6 separate regions of the Homo sapiens genome follow, and all the other regions are reported to be linked to region 1. The links are microRNA targets in miRTarBase. Many come from high-throughput screens and were not tested one by one. Region 1 holds a microRNA gene; each other region holds the end of a gene's coding sequence. Distances are between the middles of the regions.
Evidence for each region. The annotated mature microRNA hsa-miR-3658 reads UUUAAGAAAACACCAUGGAGAU and lies in region 1 at 2,085-2,106, opposite strand. An mRNA with a match to its seed (bases 2 to 7 or 8) in the 3' UTR can be bound and repressed. Matches are read on the target gene's strand: a 7mer-m8 pairs with bases 2 to 8, a 7mer-A1 pairs with bases 2 to 7 and ends in A, and an 8mer does both.

Region 1 (5,372 bases):
GAGGCTTGGTCCCAACACCACAGGTAGATGAGGAAGCAGCTAGGTAAAGGCTCAGAGATGAGAGGAGTCCATCTTCCAAGGCAGTGGGATAAACAGCCAAGGCACTAAATGGTTTGGCACCTGGGAGCTTCAAGTAAAGTTGAGCATGCTGCCCACTGAAAAGCCAAGGCTCTCCCAGACACGGGTGGGCTTCACCTGAGCACAGCCCAGTGCCATCAAGGCCAGGGGCCCTGTGTCCTCAGGATACTAACCCAGGCCTGCATTCCCTGCTTCATCTCAGAACTGATCAAGGCATGACTACAAGGATAATGATTGATCCTGAACTGATCTTGGTGAGCACCGGCTTTCAAAGGAGGCATCTTGGGAGCCTTCCCTTGCTCCAAGTAGGCGGCTGCTGTGACTGGGAGCTCCCTTCAGAGCCTGCACGGTCTCCTGAAAGTCTCCGGGTGGCAAGCTCTGCTGGGGACCAGGTTTGACTTTTTAAAATAGCAAAACAGATTTAGAGTCAAACTGAGCCCAGAAACGGGGAATCAGACTGGATGGTGCTGAGTCTGGGGGAAAATCTGGTGTGACCAGGTAATAATGGAGACCAATTTACCTGAATGGCTCGAACAGGCTCTGAGAGCAATGGGAAGAAAAGGTTCTCCAAAATGTTTCTGGCAATGGCAGCCACAGTGGGATAGCTAAGGGCACAGTCCACCAAGCACTAGGGTGGTCAACAATGAAATGAACATCTCTGGCTCTTCTGCAGTCAGAAACTGAGGCTCGGGACTCTATAATCAGAACTCCTTCAGGCTCACTTGGGCTCCCCTCCACCCAGAATGTCAGGAATCTGTACTTCCAGAGAAAACACTACCACCAAGCAGCAGCTCTCAGGAAAGCTAGAAATCTCCACCCCAAATATTTCAACCTCAGGCTCCAACTTAGGTACCTATGATTTAAATACTCTCCTTTTAAATACTTTGTAAAAACTGCTTTTCCGAGCCCCTTTTATGCTCTGCAGTTGCCATATCCACTAGGTGGTATTGCAAATAAGTAAAGCATCCTGGCCATGACGCTGCTAGTGAGAATCCCTGACCAAAGTTACTCTCCTCACCTCACTGCAAACCTCCAGGAAGCGGAAACTACTACCCCTCCACAGACAGAGCTCCCCTGCCACTCCATGAGGCGCTGCTGCCGGCATCAGTTACCGAAGCCCTCACCCACACCCAGCCTGCAATGGTCCACTCTATATTCCACAATACAGGAAAAAGCCCAAGGAGTCAGATCAGTTACGCCCCTGGGATGCAGAAAGAACCAGTGATTCTTCAGATATGACAGCAGGCAAAGTTCTGCCCTCTCCTTCCCATCTTCTATCAGGAAGCGATCCCATAAAATCTCTTCCAGGGAAGGAAAGAGGCAGCTCTGGCTTCTTGGAGAGACAGAGAAGCAGGAGGGTGAGGAAGGAGTCACCAAGCTATCCAAGCAGCCAGAGGCGAGAAGGTGGGAGCAGGGCAGGAAGAAAATGCAGAAGACTTGTTCTCCTCAGTGGGCCTCTTCCCTGAGTTTGATTTTTGAGTTGAGATTTTACCTAATTTCAACTCAAAAAAAAAAAAGAAAAGAAAAAAAAAAAAGACAAGAGTATCTCTCATTGACATATCACTAAGCTCCAGCTCCAAGAGTGGCATGTGACAGAGGAGGCAATCAAGGTTTTCCAACCCCATTCCCATCAAGTTCCACGGGGCACTCAAAAGCAACTGGACCTTAGCCACCCTCCCTGTCTCTCACAGATGCCCGAGCCTCCCCACCCTGGGACACAACAGGCAATTTCCCCTTGGTGAAATTCCAGCTCCAGTCCTAAAACACTCAAGTACAGACCCTCCTGCAAAATACTTATGGCAAACAGCTTTACAGTATTTGTACATTTACACAAAAATAGATCCTTTTTTATATATATATGTATTTATAACTGGTTACACGTTGGATTCATAATTAGGCATCACCAGTAGTAGTTGGCACAGTTTTGTTATTTAAGCTCAGGGTCAAGTTCTGTTTCATTTTGTCGTTCCAAAGTACAAAAAGAAAAAAAAAATCAAAGGCATTTCATCTCCATGGTGTTTTCTTAAATACAGTAATGTCATAGGAAACAGTATGTACAGATGAGCAGTGCCTCCTGACCCCTCCTCTGTCTCTTGGAGATAGGGGCTGGGGTCCGATGGAGACGGGTCAATGCGGCCTGCTGCTGGACTCCGATGCCTGCCTCTTGCGTGAAGGGGTGTAGCCGTTGAGACAGCCATTGGTCTGCCGTTTGGAGGGCCCTCCATTCAGGATGTCCTGGATGTGCTGCACGATGAGGTTGATGGCCACTGTGGGGCAGAGACCAGCAGAGCGTTACGGGTGCAGGCATGGGTGCAGGGGTGAGTGTGGGAGTCTGTCTGGGGGAAGGGCATGCAGGAACCACAGTAGAAAGACTTCCAGGGAAGTGGCTCTGCCACTTGCAGGCAAGTCATCCAACTTCCCAGTGGCTCTGCCTGAGCTAATATGATCCTCCTCCTTCACAGGAGGGCTCTAAGGAGTAAGATAGACAATGCCTACCACAGAGTAAGCCCTTAATGAATGGGCTTCTTATCAGGAGATGATCAGTCACCACTGGATGAAGCACTCGGGCCAAAGTCTGCAGACGTGGTAACCAGCCATGGTTCTGACACGTCAATTAGCTATGAGACCTTTCCACCAGGGAACCTTCCAGTTTTCCATCCTAAGACAGAGCATCCCTATGGAAGGCCCTCTTTCCCTCCAAAAAATATAATGCAGAGAGCTATCTTTTATTAGCATTAGAAATAAATTATATACCTCAACCAAGAGGTCAATTTAACATCACCAAAAATGGAATACACATCAAATGCTTTCTGATGTGATACACAAAGAGGACCACGCCACATCTCTCCTGGGATAATTCCTTCAGACTGTATAAGCTCATGAAACCAATCATAAGAAAATAAAAGACAAACCCAAATTGAGGACCATTCTACCAAACAATGGGCCTGTACGCCTCAAAAATGTCTTAAAAAACAAAAGATAGGGAACATCTCCAGGTTAAAAGAGGTCATATCAATGGTAAATGTCTTGAATTTAATGACTGCATTCTGCTGATGAATAAGAATGCCTTTGTTCTTAAAAAATACAGGGTTAAATATTTATTGCTATAACTTACTCCCAAACAGCTCAAGAAATAATCTTTTTAAATGGAGGGAAAATTAAATAAATTCTAAAGAGAATGAAGAAACCAGGTCCTATTTTACAGATCAACTCTGCCACACTACGCCTAGTCCAGAGACATTCATACTTCCTAGACAGGCCAAAAAAATAAATAAAACAATGGGGCCAGGTGCTATGGCTCACGCCTGTAATCCTAACACTTTGGGAGGCTGAGATGGAAGGGTCGCTTGAGGTAGGAGTTTTAGACCAGCTTAGGCAACATAATGAAACCATCTCTACAAAAACACTTTTTTAAAATTAGTGGACCGTGGTGGTGCAAGCCTGTAGTCCCAGCTACCGGGAGGCTGGGCCCAGGAATTGGAGGCTGCAAATGAGCTGTGACTGTGCTACTGCACTTCCATCTTGGTGACAGAGCAAGACCTCGTCTCTAAAGTAAAATAAAATAAAATGAAAAATAAGTACAATAATGGTAGCAACCAGCTCCCTTTAGAAAGGGCTACCGTGATGGCAGGTCATTCTAAATTAGATCAAGGAGGGAATCTGCTTTTGCTAAAAGGTGGCCTCAGAAGCAAAGTACCCAAGTGTCATCATTGGGAAGTGATAGTAAAAGGTAATCTACAGCCCTCTATTCTGCCAGAGAAGCACAAGTGCATGTCTGTCCCCGTAACACATGGGTGCCTACACCCAGGGACCTGTTCCTGAGGCCAGACGTGTAGGTGGAAAGGTTCTGCTGGCTCACAATCACAGACAAGCAGGGCAGCCATGTCTGCAGAGCCCTGTAGGGTCACCACATCCTGCCCCAAATTATGACTGACAAAGGGCAGACATTATACTCCAGGATGACACTCTGCAGGGACTCACCCAGATTATCTGCACCTCTAGGGATGATCACATCAGCATACTTCTTTGTCTGTGGAGAAAGACAGTTAATATGCATTAATACAGTTAAGAGACAACTGGCCCGAGACCCTCTCCAAGGGAATATGGGGAAAGGGCAGCATTCATACTAGCGAGCCCAGAAGAGCACCTTTTAAGGCTTCAAATATAATATTGTTTACAACTTCACAGTGAATGCATCTATTAATAGAAATTTGGGGAAACCTAAGGAAGTGCCTTGTTTAGCTGAAATGTGAATGAAAGAAGATAAGCAGGGAATGAGGAAAATGAGAAAGAAGGATTGAAGACTTTCATGCATCAGTGAGGGAAAATGGTCCAGACTGAGTGGTTAATCCAAAACCAGTTCATAATTCGATTGATAACTATCTACCATGGATTTTTATCCACTTTATCTACATTACAAGAATTTAGCTTTTATTCAAATTCTCTCTCACTCTCTCTTTTTTTTTTAAGACAGCGTCTCACTCTGTCACCCAGGCTGGAGTGCAGCGGCATCATCACAGCTCACTGCAGCCTTGACTTCCTGAGTTGGGGAGATCATCCCACCTCAGCCTCCTGAGTAGCTGGGACTACAGGCACCCGCCACCACACCCAGCTAATTTTTGTTATTTTTTATAGAGAGGGGGTATCGCCATGTTGCCCAGGCTGGTCTCAAACTCCTGGGCTCAAGCGATCCACCCACCTGGGCCTCCCAAAGTCCCAGGATTACAGGCGTGAGCCACTGCACCCAACCAAGTTCTCATTTCTAACGCTGAACACTGTTTCAGCTTATGACCTATGCAGAGAACATGGTCTTTGAAGCCAAACACTTAATTGCCTCTATTCCACTAGGACAAATATGAACTAGAAAAACCCAAACTTTCCAGGGGACTGGTTCACCTTGGACTTTTACACATAGTCTGAAACATGACACTGTTCACTCCTAGCACAGGGTAAAACCAGAAAAAGTATTCTTCACTGATGACCAGTTCATAGGTTCTATTATTACCCAATTTTTAAAGAAAGAAAGTCAGGCCACAAAGAGGCATATTTCTTTTTTCTTTTTCTTTTTTGTTGGTCCAAATTTACTGAGATTTTGTAGACCATTCTACAAGTAACTGCATCCTGGCATACAAACTAAGTCTAGCATAAGAACACATAAACCACACCTCAAGCATGTGGGCATCTTACTCTGTGCAGCCTCTGCCCTAGGATTGCTGAAAGGCAACGGTGTCAGCCCCAAACCCAACTTGAACTGAGCAGACATTTATCAGGTCCAAGTTCCTGGCTTACAGGGG
Region 2 (5,372 bases), not on the chromosome of region 1:
CGTGGAGTCTGAGACTGGGGTTTTAAGAAGGCAGCTACGTTCTGACTCCTGCCCTACTTGTGCCGTGACCCTCCCAGAAACACCTTGATGACCTTTGTCACTGGGATGGTGGCAGGTAGAAGCCGTGACCCTCCCAGAAACACCCTGGTGACCTTTGTCACTGGGATGGTGGCAGGTATGAGCTGGCAGGTGACCACTATGGCTGGGTTTCCCCAGGGGCTGAGTGGGGAGGCTGGACTTCCCTCATCTGGGGAACAGAGCCACAGGACACCTGGGCTGATGGAAGGTGCCTCACCCGAGGGCCTTCCTACCCAATTTCACCGAATCTGACCACTAGGAAACTGACATCTGTAGTTTTTTTTCTTTTTTTTCTTTTTTTTTTTTTTAGGAATCTTGCTCTGTTGCCCAGGCTGGAGTGCAGTGGCGCAATCTCAGCTCACTGCAAGCTCTGCCTCCCGGGTTCATGCCATTCTCCTGCCTCAGCCTCCTGAGTAGCTGAGGCTACAGGTGCCCGCCACCAAGCCCGGCTAATTTTTTGTATTTTTAGTAGAGACGGGGTTTCACCGCGTTAGCCAGGATGGTCTCGATCTCCTGACCTCGTGATCCGCCCGCCTCAGCCTCCCCAAGTGCTGGGATTACAGGTGTGAGCCACCACGCCCGGCCAACATCAGCAGACCTTTTAAGACAACTGGTCTCTACTAGTCAAATATGTCAATCCTAAGAAAGACGGAAAAAAGAAGGGGTAGCTGGGACCCTCTCCTCCATTCAAGGAGACAGGAGAGGCACATGGGGCACCGTGTGGTCCTGGGGCTACAAAATGCTCTGAAGACATCTCTAGGACAACCAGAAGATCTGGATATTGGAAAATACTGTATTGTTATAAAATCTGGGGGGGGGGCTGGGATAACAGGGTTGAGTTTTGTGGCAGAACGTCCTTAGGAGACACGAGCTGATGGATTTAGGAGTGCAGTATTCTGATGATCACAACCTACTTTCAGATGTTTCAGAAAAGCGCGCGTGTGTGCGTGTATGAGAAAGTGTGGGCACAGGATAAGAGAAGGTGAAAAATTTAGGCCAAGAGCATGTGGGTGTCCATGAACTATTCCTCCACTCTCTTTGTCATTTGAAATCTTTCAAAATTTCCAAAGACAGGGAGGGAAGAGGTTAATGAGAATGTAACTCAGTGGCACCTGCCTCCCTCTCAACTGGTGTCATCTTCCCAAATACTATCACTAATGATTAATAAACGGTTACTCTTTATGGTGATGACAAAGTCCCATTTTTTCTTTCAGAATGCCTTACTTAATGGGACTTTCCTCACTGAGCCTCCTGCACCTGTGCAAAGCACCCCGCCCTTGGGACGTGGTGTGAGACCCCACTGGGAGGGGCAGCTATGCCCGCAGAGACCACAGCACACCCGCCACTCCTTGTCAGGGTTTATTTCATCAGCTAACATTCATTCTCGACCTAGACAAAAACAATTAGATGATTATGACTTGCTTTTCCATCATCAACTCATTTTTTTGTATGAATAACCAAAAAATTTCTTCAACACTTTTTTTTAAGAAGAAGCTATAAATAAATAAAGCTTTAAACAATCCTGGGTTCAAGTTAAACAGTTCCAGTTCCCGAAAAGTTCACAGCCTTGTTTTGTGGGCAGTTCTGCTGTTCCTGGCTTCCCCTTCCAGGAGGGGACGTTTGCAGGTCTGGGGGTCCTGGTGACTAAGCTGTTAGCTCCACTCCCTGCCTGTTTCCGTCCTCACAGCCCTGGGAGGGCCCCGGTGGACAGAGTCCTTACAATTTAGGAGATGCTGCTGGCAAAGGAACTGTTGACCCAAAGCAGGTGGCCTGAATGGGAAGTGCCAGGCTGGACACTTGGGGGCTGAGGGCACTGCCAGCTGCCGCCGCCTCTGGACACCTCAGCCCGGCGCTGGCCCGAGAGGAGACTGCTTTCCAAATGCAGCGAAGAGACTGAGACAAGACCCGTGCTTCCGTGTGAGTTGGGATGCGGGGCATAAGTTAACACATATTCCAATATGTACAAAACAACCTGCGCTCAGGCCCGCGCACCCAGGAAGCCCATGGTGAAGGTGAGGTCACCTTGAGCCAGGCCTCTGGCTGGGTGTCCACCTCCTGCCGGGAAGCCAAGGTGCCCCACGTGGCTTGTGCAAGACCTCACAATCCCCTGAACGTGTTCCTCCTCCTCCAAGGAGTGCACCCACCCCCATGTTGAGTGTCCGAGCAGATTCCCATTGACCCTGACCTCCCTTTGAAAGAACCACACCACTAAATCCCCTTGGCACTCACTTCCTTAGTGTGATGCATCCACCCAGGGAGGTGGCCCTGCGCGGCGCTGGCACGCTGTCCACCCTGCCCTGTTGACCATCCTGTCCTTGGACCCCAAAGTAAAATGGGGCCAGTGTAGGAGACCTGAGGGTGGGGCCCTTATGCCAGACCTCCAGGGGTAGCGACCTCACCTGACCCCAGCTTCGGCTTCCTGTGCTGCAGAAGGCGCTTGCTCCCAAGCCCGTGGTGACCCACGTCTCCACCCCATGGTGTGGCAACTGTGGTGGCTGAGTGGAAGCTGGGGCAGGAGAGAGGACCCCCACCAACCCCAGCCAGGTGGCCTGCAGAGCCCACTGCCCTACCTCTGAGTCAGCCTGCGGCCTGAGCACACCAATCTACTCTCTGGGGGATCCAGGGTGCCTGTGTGGGCCCTCCTAGAGACACCAGCTTGGCCTCCTAGGGCATAAGGAATGGGGACAGGGCACAGGGCACGTGCTTACAACGGATATGCAACATGGCTTTTGGTAGGGCCATTGCAGCCAGTGGGGAAACCTGCGCGGCTGCTGGGAACAGAGCATGGCCAGCCTTTTGCCAGGGGGTGGGGAGCATGGGGAAATGCAAGGAGAGCCAGGGTGGGGAGGGCTGAGTGTCTGTTGTCAGGGAGGCCACCTACAGCTGTTTTGCCAAGGCTAGTTGAGAATCTGAAAGCTCGAGTCCCAGTTCCTGGCCATACAGAGCCACTGTGGTCCGAGGGTACGGCTCCTGGGCAGGGGCTATGGTCCCATGCTCCAGCCGATGGAAGCCTGATGAACTTAATCCGTACGCTGGTGGGAGCAGTGGTATTTGAGCTCTTGAGTATGTGTTTCGGTGATGGGGCTGGGGCAGCCTGCTAGCAAATCCCAGTGGGTCAGAAAGGAGAACAGAGGCAGGGGAGCCCTCGGTCCCCAGCCCTTCCAGTCTGAGCCAGGCCTGCCTGGATGGTCACCTCCAAGGGCCAGCCGCGGACTCACGCACAAGTGGCAGCATCCCTGGCCAAAGCCTCCCCACTCCTGGGCTGCCAGTTGGCCCGAGGAAGGCCGGCAATGCAGCTCGGGCCTACTACCCAAACCCCTCCTTGGTCTGAGGACTGTAGGGAGTGGGTGGGGCCTGAACATCAGCTTTGGCCTCCTGACCCAAAGCATGAAGCAGGACCATGGGCCAGAGAGGGGAGCAGGCTTCCTGGGGGCTGGACTCGAGTCTTCTCTGCCTCAGATGGGGTGGGCCCTGACTTTGAGGGAGCTACAGATGGGTGAGCTGGGGGCTCCCCAGGCCTCGGGGCATTGGGGGCAGCCAGAAGAGGAGGGGCTATGGGATGGCCTGGAGCTGGGGCAGTTGCCAGAAGCTGGTCTCACTCCTAGTAGCCCGGACAGAGGAGCTAAGAGCGAGTGCTGTGTGCATAGTTGGTGAGGGACACACTCCCGGCCTGGCAGGTCCACTTTCCGCTGTCCTCGTCTCTTGCGCAAACCTTCAGTTTTTGCGATAAATCCAAGGAGGCCAGGAGAGCAGCTCCAGGCACAACACCTGCTCTGGAGGCCCTGCCCTGACCATGGCATCCTTCGAGCACGCTTTCCTCTGACCCACTGGGCTGCACCTGTTGATTTCTCAAGCCCCCATCCCTGCCCAGCCCCACTACATCCCTGCTCTGTTTTTTTTCAGGACGCAGCTACCTCTGTGGAGCAGGTTTGGGATGCTCATCCCTTGACAGTCTTGGGTGGACCTGTCGTCTGTCCTGTTTTATCCCCCACACCCCCCAAGAGGCCTCCCCGTGGCCACCACCGCCACTACCACTTCTCAATGATGTGGCTCATGTAGTCCTCGGTGGGCACGCGGCCCGGCTCGTCGGCATCCTCCCGCGGCAGTGCCTCCTTGGCCCGGTGCAGCAGACGCTCCTCGCGGCTCCTCAGGCGCTGCTCCCTGCGCTCCAGCTGCCGCTTGTACTGGTAGCGCTGCTGGAAGAGGTCCTTGGCGTAGTCGTACAGCTGCATGTCCAGGTCGTTGAGCTCCTCGATGCGCCGGATGGTGTCTTCATCCACCTCCACGCCGCCCGCCCGCGTGCTATTGTACTGCATGAAGGGCCGGATGAACTTGAGGTTGAACGTCCGCTCGAACAGGTACTGCGTCTTGCGCTGGAACTCGGTCAGGCCGAAGAAGGCCATGCCCCGCAGGTTCTTCTTGGCGCTCTCGAGCAGCAGCTGGGCCCGCTTGCCCTCGGGGATGAAGGACAGGTTGTAGCAGCCCACCAGGCTCAGGTCGGCCAGCATGCGCACCTGGCGGTTGTTGGCCAGGTTGTACGGGCAGTCCATGAACTCCTGTAGCGTGCAGCCCGACCAGTCCGTGCCCTCGTAGCAGGGCGGCAGCTCCTCAGGCGTGGGCGTGCGCCCATCACACATATGCAACGACGTCTTCCACGTGGCACCCCTCTGCACATGCCGCCACTCGCTCAGGTAGCGGGACACGGGGTCTCGTAGCAGGGTGATGTAGTAGAACTTCCTGCAAGGAGACGGGGAGAGGAGGTGAGGGCTGTGACGCAGCATGAGGGGGGCTACCAGGGCTGCTCTGAGTCAAAGTCCCCACTACAGGAGTTTGGGCTTCGCCTCTAATGCCAACCAACTCCTGCACTTAGCTCTCAGTCGTTTCAAAACCCGGTATCAGAGATGCCAAGGAGCATGCCACGGTCACATGGCTACCCAGGATGACCACCACAGTGCCCTGCAGCGCCTGGCCTGGCTCCTCTGGAGGGACAACCTGACTTTTTCCTGCTGGTGGGTGGAGCCACCAATACCGCATCCAGAGAAGTCGCAGAGCCACAGCCGCCTGAGGCCAGCAGTCTTCACCAGCTGTTTACAGCCTGGGCATGGTGCCACCCAAAGAGCCACTCAGCAGGAACAGAAGGTGGGCAGGGGCCAGCGAGGGTCACCTCCAGTCCCAGTCCCAGGGTCCTGCCAAGGCCTGGTGGTGGTTGGGGGGGGGGTGCCCAGCGGACCAGCCAGCCCAGGACCCCAGAGGAAGCCATGACGTATACACCAACTCTACTTGCTGGGTTGTCC
Region 3 (5,372 bases), 70 Mb from region 1:
GCGGAGGAATGGTGAATAAGCTCTGGTGGAACCACACAGCACACAAGGCACTGTCGTGTGTCACCGAGGAGAGTGAAGCAGTCTAGAGCTGCGCTGTCCAGTGTGGCTGCAATAACCACATGTGGCTATTTAAATTCATTAAAATAAAATAAATTGAGTTCTTCAGTCATACTCGCCGCTTTCCAGGTGCTCAGTACCACATGTGGCTGCCATACTGGGCAGTGTATGGCTAGAGGACATGGCATGGAATTGGCATGAAAAGCTATACCATCATGTCATAAAGAAATACAAATGTAGTACGTCAATATATTATAAAACCTATACATCCTTTTTTTTTTGAGACGGAGTCTCATTCTGTCACCCAGGCTAGAGTGCAGTGGCATGATCTCGGCTCACTGCAAACTCTGCCTTCCGGGTTCAAGCAACTCTCCCGGCCTCAGCTTCCCAAGTAGCTGGGATAACAGGTGCCCGCCACCATGCCTGGCTAATTTTTGTATTTTTAGTAGAGACGGGGTTTCTCCATGTTGGCCAGGCTGGTCTCAAACTCCTGACCTCAGATGATCCGCCCGCCTCGGCCTCCCAAAGTGTTGGGATTACAGGCGTGAGCCACTGCGCCTGGCTTAAAACCTATACATCCTTATATGAACACAGAAAAAAAAAGGCCTAGAGGTATACCTCTCAAATTTTTAACACTGGTCATAGGCAGGTAAAAAGAAATAATCAGCTATTTCCATATTTTCTGAATGTTAAGACAGTCATGTTACTATATTAAAAATGGTAATGCTATTTATTACATAGAGATTGCTACTTTCTTCTATAGAACCGGTATGAGTAGGCAGGTTTTTTTTTTTTTTTTGAGACAGGTTCTCACTTTGTTACCCAGGCTGGATGGAGTACAGTGGCGCGATCATGGCTCACTGTAGCCTTGACCTCCTGGGCTCAAGTGATCCTCCCAAGTAGCTGGGACTAGAGGCGTACATCGCTATGCTTGGCTAATTTTTTATTTTTTGTAGAGATGGGGTATCCTCATGTTGCCCAGGCTGGTCTCAAATTCCTGGGCTCTGATCCCTCTGCCTCCCAAAGTGCTGGGGTTACAGGTGTGAGCAGGCCAGGCAGATTTCTTATTAGAACTGTTTTATGACCAAACTTTTTGTTTCTGGCATGTGTTAGGAGTATGTCACTCCCCACTGGTGTGCAGCAGGTAACCCCTTCTCTCACCAGCCTTCAAACAATGAAAGCCAGTCCGTCTCAATCTTTTGAAAGGACTAGACTATCACATATTCACACATGAAAGAGCAAATTGTTAATTAAAATTATAAATTCTATTAACTGTATTCAATACATACAAAAAGGCCAGTTTTTATTCTAAAATAAAGAACATTTATTATCACAAGTTGGATAAAAACACACAGCTTTTACAAAAATGATTTTTGATAGAAAAATATGTTTGAATACACTGTGATATTTGTAGGAACACCACACTATTGCTGTATCTCCAGCTAAAGCTTCAAGGAAACTCTATTTCTTATAATCAAAATATCCACTATTTACCACAACCCGTCTTTGGAAAGAAGTTCATAGTGTATTCTGAACAAACCAAAGCATTTACTCGGAAGTTACATTCCCATGCCTGGCAGTCACTTGTGTATGTTTAATACAGTTACACATGATGTAATTACAGAATGGCGGCGCTGGAAGGGACCTTGTAGATCATTTAGTTGGCACCCTAATTTTACAGAGGGGGAACTAAGGCCAGAGTTGAGAGATGTCCTCAGGATACCTGAGTCCCATTCCAGTGTTCGTTCAGTAATTCATAAGGAAGTCATCATAAAGGTTTAAAAAGAAAACGTTAATGACTCGCTCCCTTTATTCTTCTGTGCTGAGAGTATCATTCTGGTTTATTCAGATTAAGAAAGAAATACACTACTGAAATGGTATGAAACTCACTGTCAAAGGGCACTTAGGTCCGTTGGCTCCGTTTCCCACAGTTCCCCAAATGAACAGGTGGTACAAGACTCAGGCTTTCCCCTAATTACTTACTTGGGTAAAGTGACTTGGGTAAAATGAAAGATACAGCCAGGCGCTGGGCTCATGCTTGTAATCCCAGCACTTTGGGGGGCCAGGGCGGGCGGATCACGAGGTCAGGAGTTCAAGACCAGCCTGGCCAACATGGTGAAACCCCGTCTCTACTAAAAATACAAAAGTTAGCTGGGTGTGGTGATGGGCACCAGCTACTCAGGAGGCTGAGGCAGGAGAATTGTTTGAACCCGGGAAGCGGAGGTTGCAGTGAGCCGAGATTACACCATTGCACTCCAGCCTGGGCGACAGAGCAAGACTTACTTAAGTAAGTAAGTAAGTCAGTCTCAAAAAAAAAAAAAAAAAAAAGACAGATACAGCTATCATTGCAATGATACTGTGGTCTCATCACATGAGCTAGTTTTACAGGTAACTGTCATTTGAGAGAACGAATGGACTTTTCTTGTCTTTTGATAGGCTCCATGACAATTCAAAAGGTGAAGGGATTGCTGTCACGTCTTCTCAAAGTTCCTGTGTCAGACCTTCTGTTGTCCTATGAAAGTCCCAAAGTAAGTTGCCCAGCAAAATACAAAGTCAAAGTCAAGCTTAGTCCTCGTATTATGACATTAAACTGTCTCTAGATAGCAACAGTTTGATTCTAAATGGAGACCATGGGTCTGTTTGTTTGATTTTAAGGGTAAGCTACTGCCTGGGGACGGGGTGGGGGAAGAGTATGTGTAGCATGCTTTATCGGATCTGTCTTAATCACATCCTTCCCCACCTTCGTTCTAATTTTAGAAGCCGGGCAGAGAAATCGAGCTGGAAAATGACCTAAAGTCATTACAGTTTTATTCTGTGGAAAATGGAGATTGTCTATTAGTGCGATGGTGACAACCAACTAATAAAATTTAAAGACCACACTGCTTATCGTGTCTGGGGTTCACCGGAAATAAATGATTCACTGGAACAATTCTACTGTCAAAACAAAGGGGGTTTACAACTTGTCCTAAGTATAACAAGGGATGTATTTTTTGTTGGGAAGTGACCATTTCTAGGCTTATACATAATAGCAATAATAAAGGCTTTGAACCTACTAATGATTTTCTGATCTTATTTCATATTTATTTTTACAGCTCATCACTGCATTTCATGATAAGATTTAAATATTAAATAGAAAGAAACTAGCTAGCCTAATAAAATCTGAACACAGTTAATATCTGTCATAAGACTAGTTTTAATGGAATTCTCTATTGAAACTACTATTTTAAAGGGTTACTAGAAATGATTTGGTTGGTCATTTTGGGAAATGTCCCTTAAACTTGGGGAGACATCCTCTACTATGTATAACAATATGCTATTATCTGTCTTCTCAGTTGCACTATTTCTAAGAGTACTTAAATTAATCACATGCTTTTCCCTACAATTATACCTAAGCTGAGTATATCTTCTTCTGTGATAACCAGCTTTGATTGAAATGTACTCATATTAGGTAAACATTAGGCAATGATAGGAGGAAAGCAAAACTAATTCTTTCAAAATGTCAACAAAATTTAGAAATATCCTTCCCGATGGCACTAAAACCCTGAGAGGTATTTGCTTTTATTCATACTCACACAACTTTAGCATTTAAAAACTATGAGTACTAAACTGTGACCTTCAGGATTTATGTTAGATGGCAGAAAGAAAATTTGGGTATTAGTCTACCATATAAATGAACTTCTTTAAAACCAAGGTTCAGAACTGAGAATCATATTGGTTCCTCTTCAAGTTAGTTCAAGTTGCCCACTTCAGAGATCCACAAAATCTGACATTATTTCCAGAAACCCCAAACTTTGGTATAAGTGACCACTGCTCAAATATGTGATCACATGATCACACAGCATTCCTGTGAGTTCCTTTTTGTCTGATAATTATCCTAATTAGCTCTACAGAGCTATCCTGCAATCCAGGTTGAAATTCAAACTCTCAGTTACTACTACAGATTTCTGAACTAGGCCAAGTTTTAACCAAAAACTATAGGTAATGGTGAATTACTAATTAGCCACAATGCATCAGGATTTAGAAATATTTTTTCTTTTATAAAATAACTTGGTATTTTTCTGATAATCTTCCAATAGATAAATAAAAACTTTTCTTATGCTACAGTACAAGTTGATTTTTAAGGAAATTTGTGCAAACATTAAGAAACACCGCATTGGTTCTGGGTGAAAGTGCCAGTCTGGAACTCTCTTGAAAGACCATACAGTCTACTGCTAAACCCTGGGACTCCTCAGACTTGCACTCAGATTATCGTTTGCCTGCCCTGATTTTAGACTCTGCTAATTCAAGTCCCTGTTATCTTGCTTGACATCGACAAGGATCACCGCACCGTTCCTTCAGTTTCCACAGTTCCGTCAGTTCCCACGGAGAATACTGAGGAGAAGACAGCATTCCTGTCTCACAGGTCTTCTCACACAGCCACAGACTGTCCTGTTGAGAAACAACCAAAGCCGATCTGAGAGTGGTGAAACTGTTTTAAGAGCATCAGAAAGTATGCACGTAGACAGCTTTTATGTATTCTAATGATGCTGAAATTATTTCAAGGATAACTCCGTGTGTGGAACAACTGGTGAGGTTTGGGGGTGGCACCTCCTGATTTGGGAAAGCACCAGGTCCCACAGTCCTGTGGCTGTGGAATACAGAAACAAGGCGGTGTGTGGATGAAGAGTTAGTCAACAAATGCCATTCCGTAATGAACGATTTTAGAAACCACAAGTGAGTTTCATGTTTGCTAGTAAAGGTGTGTCTATGGCAGTATTAGTAACAGCTATTATTCTGATGGAATGCTTACAATATTGCAGGGACTGTACCAAGTGCTTTGTAAATATCTCACTTAAATCTCACAGTAATGCTGTGAGGTAGGAACTATTTCCCTCTTAACAATTGAGGAACAAACGAAGAGTTAAAAAACTTGTTCCAGGTCACAGGGCTGGTAAATGAAGAGGAGGGATTAAAGACTCCCAAGCTCAAGTTCTTAACCACTAGACTATTTCCTAGCTACGTGAATTGGTTTCTATTTCCAGCAATGTAGCAGAACACAGAGAGAAACTCATTCAATGTTTTGACAACACAAAAATGTTGGATAAAATTAAAAACCTTTATAAAGCATGGCTCAACTCCGTGATCAAAGAAGAAACAGGGTAGGAGAAAGCACTGAGTCAGCCTGTGCCTTGAAGGCAGCTGCTGATCCTTGGGTTTGGAAGGCCAAGCCCAGGGTCAGGAGACTAATGGGAGACTGACACAGAGCTAGGATCTCTGAGGGGCCACAGCCTCAGGGGTGATAAAACAAAACACACTCAGCTTGTCTGTCTCAGTCT
Region 4 (5,372 bases), not on the chromosome of region 1:
AGTTCATGATGGTGAGAAACACTTTGAATGCTCATTCTGTGGGAAATCCTTTAGAGTGCATGCACAACTTACTCGACATCAGAAAATCCATACTGATGAGAAAACTTACAAATGTATGGAATGTGGCAAGGACTTCAGATTTCATTCACAGCTTACCGAACATCAGAGAATTCATACTGGTGAGAAACCCTACAAATGTATGCACTGTGAGAAGGTTTTTAGAATTAGTTCACAGCTCATTGAACATCAGAGAATTCACACTGGTGAGAAACCTTATGCATGTAAGGAATGTGGGAAGGCTTTTGGAGTATGTAGAGAACTTGCTCGTCATCAGAGAATTCATACTGGTAAGAAACCCTATGAATGCAAAGCATGTGGAAAGGTCTTTAGAAATAGTTCATCCCTGACTAGACATCAGAGGATTCATACTGGTGAAAAACCCTATAAATGTAAAGAATGTGAGAAAGCATTTGGAGTAGGTAGTGAACTTACTCGACATGAAAGAATTCACAGTGGTCAAAAACCTTATGAATGTAAGGAGTGTGGAAAGTTCTTTAGACTTACGTCAGCCCTTATTCAACATCAAAGAATTCATAGTGGTGAGAAACCTTATGAATGTAAGGTATGTGGGAAGGCCTTTAGACATAGTTCAGCCCTTACAGAACATCAGAGAATTCATACTGGAGAAAAACCCTATGAATGCAAGGCATGTGGGAAGGCCTTTAGACATAGTTCATCCTTTACCAAACATCAGCGCATTCATACTGATGATAAACCCTATGAATGTAAGGAGTGTGGGAATTCCTTTAGTGTTGTTGGGCATCTTACTTGCCAACCGAAAATTTACACTGGTGAGAAATCATTTGACTGAAATAAATGTATAAAGTGGTTTTTTATTTCTGATTTTCACAGGAAAATACTGTGGATGGATTTAATAGGTAATCAAGGCAATTCAGTATCTCCCTCTCTTAAAGTCTGTTTTTAGACTTCATGGTCATTCTGTATGTAGACGTAGAATTGCTTAGTCATAGCTGATATATACTTATAGCTTTGTTAGATGTTGCCAAATATTTCTCCTTTTTATGTTAAAAAGTTTTTTTCATGAGTTTCTCATCCTGGCATGTTTTGTTTACAATAGCTTTTGATGTTTGTATTATTGCTCTTTTGACTATTCAGTTTTTTAATTGTAATATTACTTCAATATCTTTTCTGCATTGTAATTCTTTGCTTGTGATATCTATACTTACTTATTTTCCTCCACAGAGTTAGCACTCCTAGTCAGATACAATGTATTTTTACAGTCTTACAGCTCATCATTTTGTGTAATGTTGTTTTGTTTTGTTTTAAATGATAGAAGTGTGATCTCCTTTCCATTTTCATCCAATTGTTGACTTCTCTTTAAATTTCTACTTTATTTTGATACAACATATTCCCCCCAAAAAAACACATACATAGGAACTGGTTATATTCCACCATAACACACACACACACACACACACACTATATACATATAGTGTATATACACATATAGTGTATATAGTGTATGTGTGATGTATACTATACATATCACATATACTATATGTGTGTATATAGTGTGTGATGTATATGTGTGTGATGTATACTATATATGCCCACACATGCACTACATAACACACTATATATATATATATATATACACACACACACACACAATATATGTATATATAGTATATACACTATATACTGGGCACTATATATATATAGTGTGTATGTGTGTTATATTGGAATATAACCAGTTCCTTTAAGCAGTCTTTTTACCTGCAGGCTATACCAACCAGGATCCAAATGAAGAGAACTCTTTTAAATATTTGATAAAACTACTCACCCAGTAAGTCTCTTAAAATTTATCATTCTCTTAAAGTATCACTCTAAAATTTGTCAAACACCTTTAAAAGGGGAGAAAAAATGACCACTGAACTTACATTAAGAGAATTTACAACTATATATTAACATGGCTTCAATTGTTTTTTTAATCTATTATCATTATTTTTCTTTTTATTCCCTCTCAGAGTTGACTTACTAGGTTTGGGCATTTCAACAATCAGCAGACCTTCTTTGGTTTAACTAATCTCATTTAACTCCAAAATCATCTCTCTCTTAGGACTGCTGACTTGGTTATGCAGTCAATGAGATCACGAGCCACTGGTTATTGGATTTTTTTTCTTTTTTTTTAGACAGAGTTTTGCTCTTGTTGCCTAGGCTGGAGTGCAGTGGCGCAGTCTTGGCTCACCTCAACCTCTGCCTCCCAGGTTCAGGCTATTCTCCTGCTCAGCCTCCTGATTAGCTGGGATTACAGGCATGCGCCACCATGACCGGCTAATTTTATATTTTTAGTAGAGACGGGATATCTCCGTGTTGGTCAGTCTGGTCTCAAACTCCCGACCTCAGGTGATCCACCCGCCTCAGCCTCCCAAAGTGCTGGGATTACAGGCATGAGCCACCGCACCCAGCCTGGTTATTGGATTTATTTATTTATTTTGAGATAGAGCCTTGCTCTGTCACCAGGCCGGAGTGCAGTGGTGTCATCTCAGATCACTGCAACCTCCACCTCCCAGGTTCAAGCGATTCCCCTGCCTCAGCCTGCCAAGTAGCTGGGATTACAGGCATGCGCCACCATGCCCAGCTAATTGTATTTTAGTAGATATGGAGTTTCACCACGTTGGCCAAGACAGTCTCGATTTCCTGACCTTGTGATCCCCCTGCCTCGGCCTCCCAAAGTGCTGGGATTACAGGCATGAGCCACCACGCCTGTCCGGTTATTTGATTTTTATAAGAAAATTTTACTATTATTTTCAGATAAATTTATGTCACTGTCATTCATTACATTTTAATTTTTGAAACTGATGTCTTTCCCAGAATTTATGTACTCTATAACGGTGTGAATGATTACCAGTATTAAGCCATTTTCTCATCTGATATATTGAGCTATGTTTTATGTAAGTATTGCTTATTCAAGTAGTTTTAAAAGATATGTAATTGGTTGTTGTTTCATGTCCTACACAGTAAGAACAAGAGTATGTTAACCTTTTTGTCAGGATATTTGCTATTTCATATCTTTGAAATAGAGTAGTAGCTCTATTTCTAACTAAATTCTATTTATGTAACAACACAGCTAATTTACTCTTGGATCTCATTCTCCCTTTTTATCCTGAGTTACCATCAGTGCTAATGTTCCTCTTTTGGGTATAGTTCTCCAGGAGAACTTGTCCTATATTTCTTTGTGTGTGTTTTTTTCCTTCCAGCTTAAACAAATTAAAACTAAATATCTAAACCTTGTATACAGACATTAAAATTAGTGAGAGAAACAAAATATCCTTGTGTCTTGGCTTTTACTTTTTGAAGTCATTAACAAATAATAAATTAATGAATAAAATGTGTCCTTATTATGTTTTCCTTGTTTGTAGTTACAGCTATATTTTTATCATATTAACATTTTTCACTTAACTTCGTAATGAACTTATGGCATTTCACACTTACTCGAAACCATAATATAATTATTATTGGTGGTATTACTGTTTGGTTTTTACTATTTTTACTCAAAAACATAAAACTTCACCATTCTTTCCATTTTCATTTGCCCCTTTATTCTTTCTGACTTTTCTCTAAGCCTGCATAGGAGCTTTATTCTCATATTCAATAGGATAGGATATTGCAGTCTCATCCTGTTTTCTGCTGTCCTGCACCATTAAATTTTATATGTCCTTGAAGGAATTCAATTTAATGGCAACTAATATATGTATGTTAGGGACAGGTAAAGAGTCTGTGACTGAGATTTCTGGAGTTATATAACCCCTGCGCCACCCCCCACCCCAACTCCAACTTGCCAGAATTCACCCCTTAACCTGCAATGTGATTGTATTTGGACATAGGGCAATGAGGACATAAGAATGTGATTCTAATTTGATACAAATGGTGATCTTATGAGAAGAGGAAGGAGAGACGTCTCTTCCTATGCTCACACACAAAGGAAAGTCCACATGAGGACACAAGGAGAAGCCAAGAGAGCCCTTACCAGGAATTAAACCTGCTAATCCCTATTTTAATTAGAACAGTGAGAAAATAAATATCTGTATTTAAGCCTCACAGTCTATGGCATTTTCTTACAACACCCTAAGCAAACTAAGACAGTTGTTGGTACTGAGAAGTGGGGTGCTGCTATAACAAAAAACTAAAAATGTGCAAGTCCAAGCTTTGGAACTGGGTGGTGGGCAAATAGGCTAGAAGAATGCTGAGGGTAGATGCTAGAAATATGGATGTAAAAATGATTCTGGGGAGGACAAAAAAAAAAAATAGAACCACTGGAGAGAAAGCTTCCATTTTAAAGAATCCTGTCATGAACGGTATTCATGTTAAAGAAACAATCATGAACAAAATGTTGGTAGAAATATGGACATTTAAGGCCATAATGTTTTAGTCTCAGAAATGAGAAACAGGTTATTGTAGCAAGGAACTTGGCTGAATCATGTTCTAGTGTTTTGTGGAAGGTAGCGCTTCCAACCAATGAAAACTGAATAGTAGCGGAGATTTCTAATTATTGAACTTGTGGCTTGGGTTCCCTTTATTGCGCATATAAAACAGGAAAGGAGAGAGATGAATTGAAGGAGGAATTCTTAAGCAATAAGAAACTAAAATGTGAAGATTTGGGAAATTCTTAACCATACTGAGAAAAATGAGGAAATGTGTATTTTGCTGTTTTGGGGTAGAGTGTTGTGTACATGTTAGGTGTTGTTAGTTGATAATCTTCCAGTTTTCTATTTCCTTCTTGATCTTCTGTGTAGATGTTCCATCCATTATTGAATGTGAAGTTTTGAAGACTCCAACTGTTGTAGAACTTTTTTTTTTTGCCTGCAACTTTTTGTAGTGTTTGCTTCACTTCTTTTGGGGCTGTTTGGTGTGTTTGTGTTTATAACTATTATATCTTTTGATGCATTGACCGTTTTATCAATATATAATGTGTCTTTTTTGTCCCTTGTAAAAATTTTTGACTTAAAGTCTATTTTGTTTGATACTAGCATAGCCACCCTACCTCTCTTTTGCTTAACTATTTGCATGGAATCTTTGTCCACTCCTCTCACTTTCAAACTATTTACAGTTTGGGATTTATACTGAGTCTCTTATGGACAGCATATAGTTGGATCATTTTTTTTAATCCATCTGGCAATCTCTGCCTTTTAATTGGAGAGTTTAATCAATATACATTTAAATTAATTGCTTGTAAAGGACTGACTTCTGCCATATTTTAATTTGTTTTGTGTATGTCTCTTTTTGTTTCTTAATTCTCCCAATATTGCCACCTTTTGTGTTTAATGGAATTTTTTCTTTTTTCTTTTTTT
Region 5 (5,372 bases), not on the chromosome of region 1:
CAAGGACTAAGCTCATTGCTAGAATGGCAACAACAAACCAAAACAAAAATCCAATGAAGGATGGCAGATGCAATAAAAAGTTTCTGAGGAAGCAAAAACAAGAATTAGTTAAGGCTTCATAAAGAATTCTATAAGAAGATTTAAATGTCAAGAATTCACTGAAAAGCCTCAAAGCCTAACGGGTTATTGCGGTGTCAGGCTAGCTGAGGTCTAGTGACATGTTCCCAGAAATAAAGCTAAAGGGGGCATGTGAGAACGGGCGTGGAAAATTGAAACAATTACGTTTCAAATACTTTTTGCCTTTCATGATGCTGTTTTTTCCTTAGGAGCCACGGGTGACTCTGAACTTCAATTATTCATCAAAATCACAAAACTAAAACAATAACATAAGAAAAAAGACCAACAGCATCTTTAAGAAACTTGAACGTCCTCTCGGCTCTAGCGTGTAAACGGTAGGTCTCTAACCTCAACGCACAGCGGGCACTGGAAGCGGTGATTGTCCAAAGGCCTGATTGTCCACGATCTCAAAAGGAGATCTGGTATTTTTGTGATTTGGTTCTCATTAAATTCCTATACCAAGTAAAATGCCAGTTCCCATGGCCTAAATTTTATTTTATATATATATATGCTTTTTTTTTTTTTCTGAGAGCAACCTTACTCAGACTTCACATTTATCTTAGTACAGCATTAAAAAAGATTTAATAGATGGGTTCAAAAGCCAGAGGCATGTAGCTCTTGAACCTACCCTAGTAACCATACTTCACAAGATACATTAAAAGTCCACTAACACCTAACCTAACGCACACAAAACCCACGCCTGTTTACCTTCTGCAAGTCGCATCGGTCCGCAATCCCACAGATTAAAGCAAGTTTTCCCTTTATACGCAAAGTTTTAGCCAGGTAAGCTATTGTATGATTAAAAGCAAACTTTATAAACTAAATAATCTTAGGAATAGTGGCCACTTACTTTTATATTTCAGGGATATGAGAGAATAGTTCATGAATTTTCAGAAAAATGAATGTGTGGGATCAACAGCTCTGGTCTAACATTTGCGGGGGGGGAAGGGTCAGGGATGAGAGTTTTTCTCCCCATCCAAATTAGGTCTGTTGAGTCTTACTTGCAGTACCGGCGCAGTACATGAACATGTCAACATACATATGTGGCAGAAACACACATCAAGGAACATGACGGCATTCACTTTTGTTTCTGAAGACAGACAGAGACTGGGCTTCAAAAGACACCGTCTTCTATTATGAGTCAAACTTCTTACAAATGAGAACAGAGGCCTATGCTTTTCTCTTTAAAAAAGGAGCCTCGAATGCGATGCACAGCCGACCTGCAGATTAGTGTTAACTCTGGGAGCTCGGGAGCGTGCACCACCACCAGTGTCACCGAGCGCACCCGCACAGCAGCTAACCAGTCAGGCAGCAGAACGAGTGGCGGCAGTTTGCCGGGGCGTGCAGACACACGACATGTTTCCCATCTTGGAGACTATCTACTGTTCGGCTTTTCTAAAATGTCAGATTATTCCTGAGTGTATATCCACAGGGTAAAGGAGGAAAAGACCGTAAGAGAAACTATAGTTTTGGGAGAAATCAGCGTTGTTGACACCCAATAGAAAACCTATTTACTTCAAAGTGCATGTAATTCATTTACCCGGTAGCTCATAAACGCTCCCTAGCCCTGCATAGTTTTCGAGTGAGTGTGAGTGATTCATAGTTTTTTATATATATACATACATAGAAAAGAGGATCCCAAATATCCTGCAGAGGAAGGAATGCTTAGAAAGCCTCTTTTCTTCTAAGTGCTACGGCTGTGTGTTTATGTGTTTGTAAAAATACAAAGTAAATGCTCAAATAATGTTGAAGTGATTTAAAAACTCAAATACTCATATATTTACATTGGAGAGTAAGAAAAAAAACAGTCCTTAGCTCACACATTGCCCTTCCAAGGGAGAGGATCCTGAAAGACCCCATGTGCTCAGTGGTTTAGTAAATGCCAAACCAGCGTCCCAGTGGAGTTCAAGTAGGACATGTAGTGTTTAACTGAAAACAATTTTTTTCCTTTTTTCTGTTGGTGAGAAAGCATTATGCATTACACAACACCAAAATTTAGACATATTTTGAAAATCGTTTAAAAGAAAACGTATCTTTACAAACACCAAATAACATCCATGAGACTGAAGCCCTTTTGTTTTTTTCCCATAGAGAGCAAGACAATTAAAGGCAGCAAGCAGTCAGTTCCGCCATCACAGCTGGAGAGTTGACGCTCAGAACCAGAAATTCTGTCAGTGTGACCTTTAAGTTACTTCTCTATTTCCACTGCCTTTTTTTTTTTTTTTGAGACAGGGTCTCACTGTTGCCCAGGTGGGAGCACAGTGGTGCAATCTTGGCTCACTGCAGTCTCAACCTCCCAGGCTCAAGCGATCCTGCCACCTCAGCCCCCCAAGTAGCTGGGACTACAGGCACGCACCACCACGCCTGGCTAGATTTTTTTTTTTTTGTATTTTTTATAGAAATGGAGTTTCGCCATGTTGCCCAGGCTGGTCTTGAACTCCTGAGCTTCAGTGATCTGCCCGCCTCGGCCTTCCGAAGTGCCGATCACAGGTGTGAGTCACTGCGCCCGGTCTCCACTGCTTTCTAATTCCAAGGGATGCGATCTGTTTAGAGCCTCATCTGGTGACTCTAATCCTTATGACCAGAATGTGCAGGGATTCTGACTGCATCCACACTGTGGAAATGTAACAGCTTTAGCCTGGGCACAGAAGGCTTTTCTCTTTCCTGTTCTTTCCTGAACCAGCAAACTTCAGGACCCTGACTGGACTCCCGCTGGAGGAATGAAGCCCAGCTCCTAGGACTTATTAAAAAAAAAATGACATTAGATTTATGGAGGCTGAGCGGGAAGATCTCTGAACTAAAACAATTACTGAAAAGAGAGGAGCATTCTGATGTGCTGTTCTTTGGAATTTCTATAATTAAAAAATAAACACAGAACTATTTCGTAAGAAAATACATCTTAGTGTGCAATCCAATGCACATGGATTGGTAGATGAAAGGTAAAATGCAAAAAAGTATGAAAATACAGTCCTTTAAATGTGGCAATAAAGTTTAACATACTGATATAAAATCAATACAGAGAAAATAAATGTACAAGTGCAAAAAAATTCCATCATTTGTAAAGAGAAATAAAAAGTGCCAGCCTGCTTGTTCTTAAAAATGCCTCCCGACATAATTGTTCAAAGACAAATTAGACAGATGCAACATTAAAAAAAAAAAACAAAACCTTCTTAGCATGCCATGTCTAATAAACACATATATACACAAAAACTAGAACAAAATCATGTGAAACCGAGTTATCAGCTGGCATTGATGAACTGGTCTGTAAGTTGTTGGGTTACATCATAAAATGGGATGTTTCACATCTCAGGCACAGACGACTTGGAGGTTGCTCTCAGAGGGCAGACTTTTTGTAGAGGAAGTCCGGCTTGCTTGGTGACCTCCTTCCTCTGCTTATTGAATCTTCCCTTTCCAAATCTGTATTTCTCTGAGCTCCATGGCCCAGGGACTCACTGTCTGCCAGTCTTCTACCGGATCTCTCTTCGGGAGCTTCAGAGCTACATGCAGAAAGTGAAGGTCTGTTAGGAGTCAGCCCAAAAGTCAAGTCAGTTTCTACTGCAGTTCGTCCCCTGACATGGGCTGGACCGGTACTAGCATTTTCTGGGGCTGCCAAAGGAAAGTCTGACCGCTGGGGAGGTTGCTCAACGACATCCAGGTGTATCGGCTCATTCTTTTGTCTGTGTAGATGCCCGTCAGGGGAAAGTGGATATTCTCTCCTAGCTTCTTCCTGTTTTTTAGGAGACGTCTGACCAGGTAGGTAGGCTGACTTTAAGCCACTTGGTGATGCCTTATTGTGGCTGTACAGATCGGGACCAAAATATCCACCTTGCGAAGGGGAAGGGGTGCGTCTGCTGAGAGCAGGAGTAGAAGGTCTGCAAGCAGCATTTGAGAAGTCATAGAAATCCGGATATTCCTGTGGATTTTCTCTGGTGTCTGTTTTTTGCTCTAGTGTGTGTTTTTTCCGAGAAGTGTGTGTATGTCTCTGTGGAATACACGACAGATGCTGGGGAGGCCCTGGTCCTGCTTCAGAAACTGACTGGCTTAATTCTGTGTCTACAGCAAGCTCTGGAAGCCTCCTGTCCTTGAGTGACAGTGTGGACACACCCACCGCGATGTCTGGCATCAGATCATTCAGCACAGGTTGTGTTCGCTGCAGACAGAGACAAAAATGGTGGGAGGGTTAAAAAAAGGACCCATCCTCTGTAGAAATGATGTTCACTGATTTTGTTTCCCAATTATAAAATTAACACATTCTGTTTTTGTTTTTTTTTTTGAGACAGAGTCTCGCTCTGTCGCCCGGGCTGGAGTGCAGTGGTGCGATCTCAGCTTACTGTAACCTCTGCCTCCCGGGTTCAAGTGATTCTCCTGCCTCAGCCTCCTGACTAGCTGGGATTACAGGTGCCCGCCACCACGCCCAGCTAATTTTTTGTATTTTTAGTGGAGACGGGGTTTCAATGTGTTAGCCAGGATGGTCTCGATCTCCTGACCTCGTGATCCGCTCACCTCGGCCTCCTAAAGTGCTGGGATTACAGGCGTGAGCCACCGCTCCTGGCTGAATTTGTAAGAATTATAAAAATACAGAAAGCTATAAAGGCAAAAAAATCACTCCAACCTTTTGAACAGAGATACCACTGTTAGCATTTTGAGGTCTTTCTTTTTATGCTTTTCTCCTTTGCATATATACTGATGAAATTTAGTACCTATATAATCTGTCACTAAATCTTTGAGATCACCATTTTAAATTATTATGTGACGTTCTACTGCATCAATGAACCATTACTTAATCATTCTGCTACTATTGGACATCTAGGTTGTTTACCATTTTTCATTATTATAGTCAAGACTGCAATGAACAGACAAATAAATTACCTTTAAAGGGAGTTTTATTTAAAATATAAAGTAGTAGAACTTTTGTAATTGTAGAACTGAGGGCCTGGCCCAACAGAATGGGAATCTGGTTTATCAAACATGACCAACCTTCGCCATTCTGGGGTGGGGGAAGCAGGGAGGGGAGGTAGAGAGGTCTAAGAAGGCGAGAAAGGCTTTCTGTGCTAACAGTGCCCCTGCAAACATGGTGAACCTTCCTAAAACCCATCGGACTTTCTGTCACAGTGTGGCACACACCAATCCCACAAAGTGACACAGTAGAGGAAGGGCAAGGATTCTCTGTATGCCCAGGGAAAGCAGCATGACAGGAAGCAGAGTGACTATGGTGGGCAGACTAGGCTGATTTTCCCGAAAAAGGGTAAAACTAC
Region 6 (4,000 bases), 60 Mb from region 1:
GAAGTACCTAGTTCATTGTCTGGCCTATTAGGAGACCTTTAATTAATAGTAGCTGATTTATTATTTATGTTTCAGATATGTTTATTCATCTTCTCACAAATATCCAGCTTTTAGAACATAGTGAGAGCTGGATCATAAACCTCCCTCCCAGGTGCCCACTAAGCTGTGCCCCAGGCCTTCTGACTTCAGCCTCCCAGATGACCTCTGACCCTGCTCTCCTTGCCCACACAGAGCTCAGGGCGACTGTGACCCTGAAGCACCAATGACCGAGGGCACCCGCTGCTGCCGCCAGGAGATGTACATTGACCTGCAGGGGATGAAGTGGGCCAAGAACTGGGTGCTGGAGCCCCCGGGCTTCCTGGCTTACGAGTGTGTGGGCACCTGCCAGCAGCCCCCGGAGGCCCTGGCCTTCAATTGGCCATTTCTGGGGCCGCGACAGTGTATCGCCTCGGAGACTGCCTCGCTGCCCATGATCGTCAGCATCAAGGAGGGAGGCAGGACCAGGCCCCAGGTGGTCAGCCTGCCCAACATGAGGGTGCAGAAGTGCAGCTGTGCCTCGGATGGGGCGCTCGTGCCAAGGAGGCTCCAGCCATAGGCGCCTGGTGTATCCATTGAGCCCTCTAACTGAACGTGTGCATAGAGGTGGTCTTAATGTAGGTCTTAACTTTATACTTAGCAAGTTACTCCATCCCAATTTAGTGCTCCTGTGTGACCTTCGCCCTGTGTCCTTCCATTTCCTGTCTTTCCCGTCCATCACCCATCCTAAGCACTTACGTGAGTAAATAATGCAGCTCAGATGCTGAGCTCTAGTAGGAAATGCTGGCATGCTGATTACAAGATACAGCTGAGCAATGCACACATTTTCAGCTGGGAGTTTCTGTTCTCTGGCAAATTCTTCACTGAGTCTGGAACAATAATACCCTATGATTAGAACTGGGGAAACAGAACTGAATTGCTGTGTTATATGAGGAATTAAAACCTTCAAATCTCTATTTCCCCCAAATACTGACCCATTCTGGACTTTTGTAAACATACCTAGGCCCCTGTTCCCCTGAGAGGGTGCTAAGAGGAAGGATGAAGGGCTTCAGGCTGGGGGCAGTGGACAGGGAATTGGGATACCTGGATTCTGGTTCTGACAGGGCCACAAGCTAGGATCTCTAACAAACGCAGAAGGCTTTGGCTCGTCATTTCCTCTTAAAAAGGAGGAGCTGGGCTTCAGCTCTAAGAACTTCATTGCCCTGGGGATCAGACAGCCCCTACCTACCCCTGCCCACTCCTCTGGAGACTGAGCCTTGCCCGTGCATATTTAGGTCATTTCCCACACTGTCTTAGAGAACTTGTCACCAGAAACCACATGTATTTGCATGTTTTTTGTTAATTTAGCTAAAGCAATTGAATGTAGATACTCAGAAGAAATAAAAAATGATGTTTCACTCTGTGTCTGTTTTTAATTTCCAGGAGCAATAATGGGGAATGAGAGCAACACAATGATCTGAAGAAAGGACCCCCAACCTCTAGGGCGCAAGACTATAATAGTTAAATTTATATAGATGAGGCTTTCATTTATGATATTTCTATTTTCTCACACAACTCTCATTCCAAAAATATTAAACAATCACTCACGGATGTCTCCTCTTTAGTTTATGTGTTGCCAAAGCAAGCACTGCAGCCTCATTTTTTTTTTTTTGAGACAGAGTGTGGCTCTGTCACCCAGGCTGGAATGCAGTGGCACGATCATGGCTCACCGCAAACTCCGCCTCCCTCCCAGGTTTAAGCAATTCTCACGCCTCAGCCTCCCGAATTACAGGCATGTGCCACCATGCCCAGCTAATTTTTTTTTTTTTTTGAGACGGAGTCTCACTCTGTTGCCCAGGCTGTAGTGCAGTGGCATGATCTCGGTTCACTGCAACCTCCTCCTCCTGGGTTCAAGCAATTCTCCTGCCTCAGGCTCCCTAGTAGCTGGGACTATAGGCGACCACCACCATGGCCAGCTAATTTTTTGGGTTTTGTTGTTGTTGTTGTTGAGATGAGTCTCGCACTGTCACCTGGGCGGAAGTGCAGTGGCGTGATCTCAGCTCACTGCAACCTCTGCCTCCCAGGTTCAAGCGATTCTCCTGCCTCAGCCTCCCAAGTAGCTGGGATTACAGGCGCCCACCACCACGCCCGGCTAATTTTTTGTATTTTTAGTAGAGATGGGGTTTCCCCATGTTGGCCAGGCTGGTCTCGAACTCCTGATCTCGTGATTCACCTGCCTCGGCCTCCCAAAGTGCTGGGATTACAGGTGTGAGCCACCGTGCCCGGCCCTTGGTATTTTTTTAGTAGAGACTGGGTTTCACCATGTTGGCCCGGCTGGTTTCGAACTCCTGATTTCAGGTGATCCGACCGCCTTGGCCTCCCAAAATGCTGGGATTACAGGCATAAGCCACTGTGCCCAGCCTAATTTTTGCATCTTTTAGTAGAGACGGGGTTTTGCTATTTGGCCAGGCTGGTCTTGAACTCCTGACCTCAAGTGATCCGCCCGCCTCAGTTTCCCAAAGTGCTGGGATTACAGGCGTGAGCCACGGTGCCCGGCCTACCTCCTCTTTAGAAAGCACTGTAACCCCTACAATAGTGGTGATGGGCAATGGGGGTTGACAATAGTGTGGTAAGCGAGCTAACATTTCTTATCATTCACTATGAACCAGGGAACTGGACTAGGCATTGTCACATGTCACTTAATTCTTGCAGCTATCCCATAAGGTGGGTATTATTAATCCTATTTTTTAGATGAAGAAACAGCCTGAGGTAATGCGAGCATGTTGAATCTCTATCCCACAGAATGGGTTATAAACTTCTTCCTATGCCAGTCCCCAATAAGCTGCTCTGCTGATGACACAGGCATCAGGTTAAAATGTCATTTGGGAGCTGTCTTATGCAATTCCCCTCCATTTAGCTTTCCCATTGAGCTGGGTTTCCTTATGCTTGTCTATGGAGAAAGTTATACAGTCATATACCGCAAAATGATAGTTCGGTCAATGACAGACCACATACACAATGGTGGTCCCATAAGATTACAATGGAGCTGAAAAATCCCTATGGTCTAGTGACATCATAGTCATTATAATGTCCTAGCACAACCCATTACTCATGTGTTTGTGGTGATGCTGATATAAACACACTTACTGTGCTGTCAGTTGTATAAAAACATAGCACATGCTAGGCCGGGCATGGTGGCTCACGCCTGTAATCCTAGCACTGTGGGAGGCTGAGGAGGGTGGATCACCTGGAGTCAGGAGTTCGAGGCCAGCCTGACCAATATAGTAAAACCCCTTCTCTACTAAAAAAACAGAAACTAGTCAGGCGTGGTGGCGGGTGCCTGTAGTCCCAGTTACTCAGGAGGATGAGACAGGAGAAGAATCACTTGAACCCTGGAGACGGAGGTTGCAGTGAGCTGATATCACACCACTGCACTCCAGTCTGGGTAACAGAGTGAGACTCCATCTCAAAAAATAAATAAAATAAAGCACAGCACATGTAATTATATATAGTATATAATACTTGATAAGTGACTGTTACTGTTATGTATTTACTATACTTTTTATTATTTTAGAGTACTCGTTCTACTTATTAAAAAAAAAAAGTTAACTGTAAAACAGGCTCAGGCGGTTCCTTCAGGAGGAATCCAGAAGAAGGCATTGTTATCATAAGAGATGACAGCTCCGTATATGTTATTGCCCCTGAAGACCTTCTACTGGGACAAGATGTGGAGGTGGAAGACAGTGATATTGCTGATCCTGACCCTGTGTAGGCCTAGGCTACTGTGTGTGTTTGTGTTTTATTTTTTAACAAAAAACTTAAAAATTAGAAAAAAAATAAACTTTTTAATAGAAAAAGTTTATAGAATAAGGATAAAAAGAGGCCAGGCGCGGTGGCTCATGCCTGTAATCCTAGCACTTTGGGAGGCCGAGGTGGCAAATTGGCTGAACTCAGGAGTTTGAGACCAGCCAGGGCAACATGGTGA

Region 2: the mRNA of HS6ST1 is a reported target of hsa-miR-3658. Seed matches in the 3' UTR shown: 8mer at 1,561-1,568.
Region 3: the mRNA of B3GALNT2 is a reported target of hsa-miR-3658. Seed matches in the 3' UTR shown: 7mer-m8 at 4,196-4,202 and 7mer-m8 at 1,908-1,914.
Region 4: miRTarBase lists ZNF529 as a target of hsa-miR-3658. Seed matches in the 3' UTR shown: 7mer-A1 at 967-973, 7mer-A1 at 1,875-1,881 and 7mer-A1 at 1,893-1,899.
Region 5: miRTarBase lists BTBD7 as a target of hsa-miR-3658. Seed matches in the 3' UTR shown: 8mer at 411-418.
Region 6: miRTarBase lists LEFTY2 as a target of hsa-miR-3658. Seed matches in the 3' UTR shown: 7mer-A1 at 1,193-1,199.

The regions. Positions count from the first base shown.
Region 1 is chr1:165,904,657-165,910,028 of GRCh38, reverse strand. It overlaps MIR3658 (microRNA 3658), which reads right to left and starts at 2,108; the gene lies at 2,053-2,108. It overlaps UCK2 (uridine-cytidine kinase 2), which reads right to left. Exons shown (of 7, transcript NM_012474.5): 6 at 4,060-4,108; 7 at 1-2,345. The coding sequence ends at 2,206.
Region 2 is chr2:128,264,056-128,269,427 of GRCh38, forward strand. HS6ST1 (heparan sulfate 6-O-sulfotransferase 1) reads right to left here. Exons shown (of 2, transcript NM_004807.3): 2 at 1,425-4,815. The coding sequence ends at 4,107. Among named protein-coding and RNA genes, the nearest start is that of HS6ST1, 52 kb to the right of the region's middle.
Region 3 is chr1:235,445,856-235,451,227 of GRCh38, forward strand. It overlaps B3GALNT2 (beta-1,3-N-acetylgalactosaminyltransferase 2), which reads right to left. Exons shown (of 12, transcript NM_152490.5): 12 at 1,335-4,485. The coding sequence ends at 4,351. TBCE (tubulin folding cofactor E) reads left to right here. Exons shown (of 17, transcript NM_003193.5): 16 at 2,494-2,585; 17 at 2,815-5,372. The coding sequence ends at 2,907. Among named protein-coding and RNA genes, the nearest start is that of B3GALNT2, 56 kb to the right of the region's middle.
Region 4 is chr19:36,542,365-36,547,736 of GRCh38, reverse strand. It overlaps ZNF529 (zinc finger protein 529), which reads left to right. Exons shown (of 5, transcript NM_020951.5): 5 at 1-4,124. The coding sequence ends at 871. Among named protein-coding and RNA genes, the nearest start is that of ZNF260, 17 kb to the right of the region's middle.
Region 5 is chr14:93,238,822-93,244,193 of GRCh38, forward strand. BTBD7 (BTB domain containing 7) reads right to left here. Exons shown (of 11, transcript NM_001002860.4): 11 at 1-4,267. The coding sequence ends at 3,452. It also overlaps the pseudogene RPL36AP4. Among named protein-coding and RNA genes, the nearest start is that of UBR7, 34 kb to the left of the region's middle.
Region 6 is chr1:225,934,036-225,938,035 of GRCh38, reverse strand. It overlaps LEFTY2 (left-right determination factor 2), which reads left to right. Exons shown (of 4, transcript NM_003240.5): 4 at 232-1,433. The coding sequence ends at 595. Among named protein-coding and RNA genes, the nearest start is that of LEFTY2, 5.2 kb to the left of the region's middle.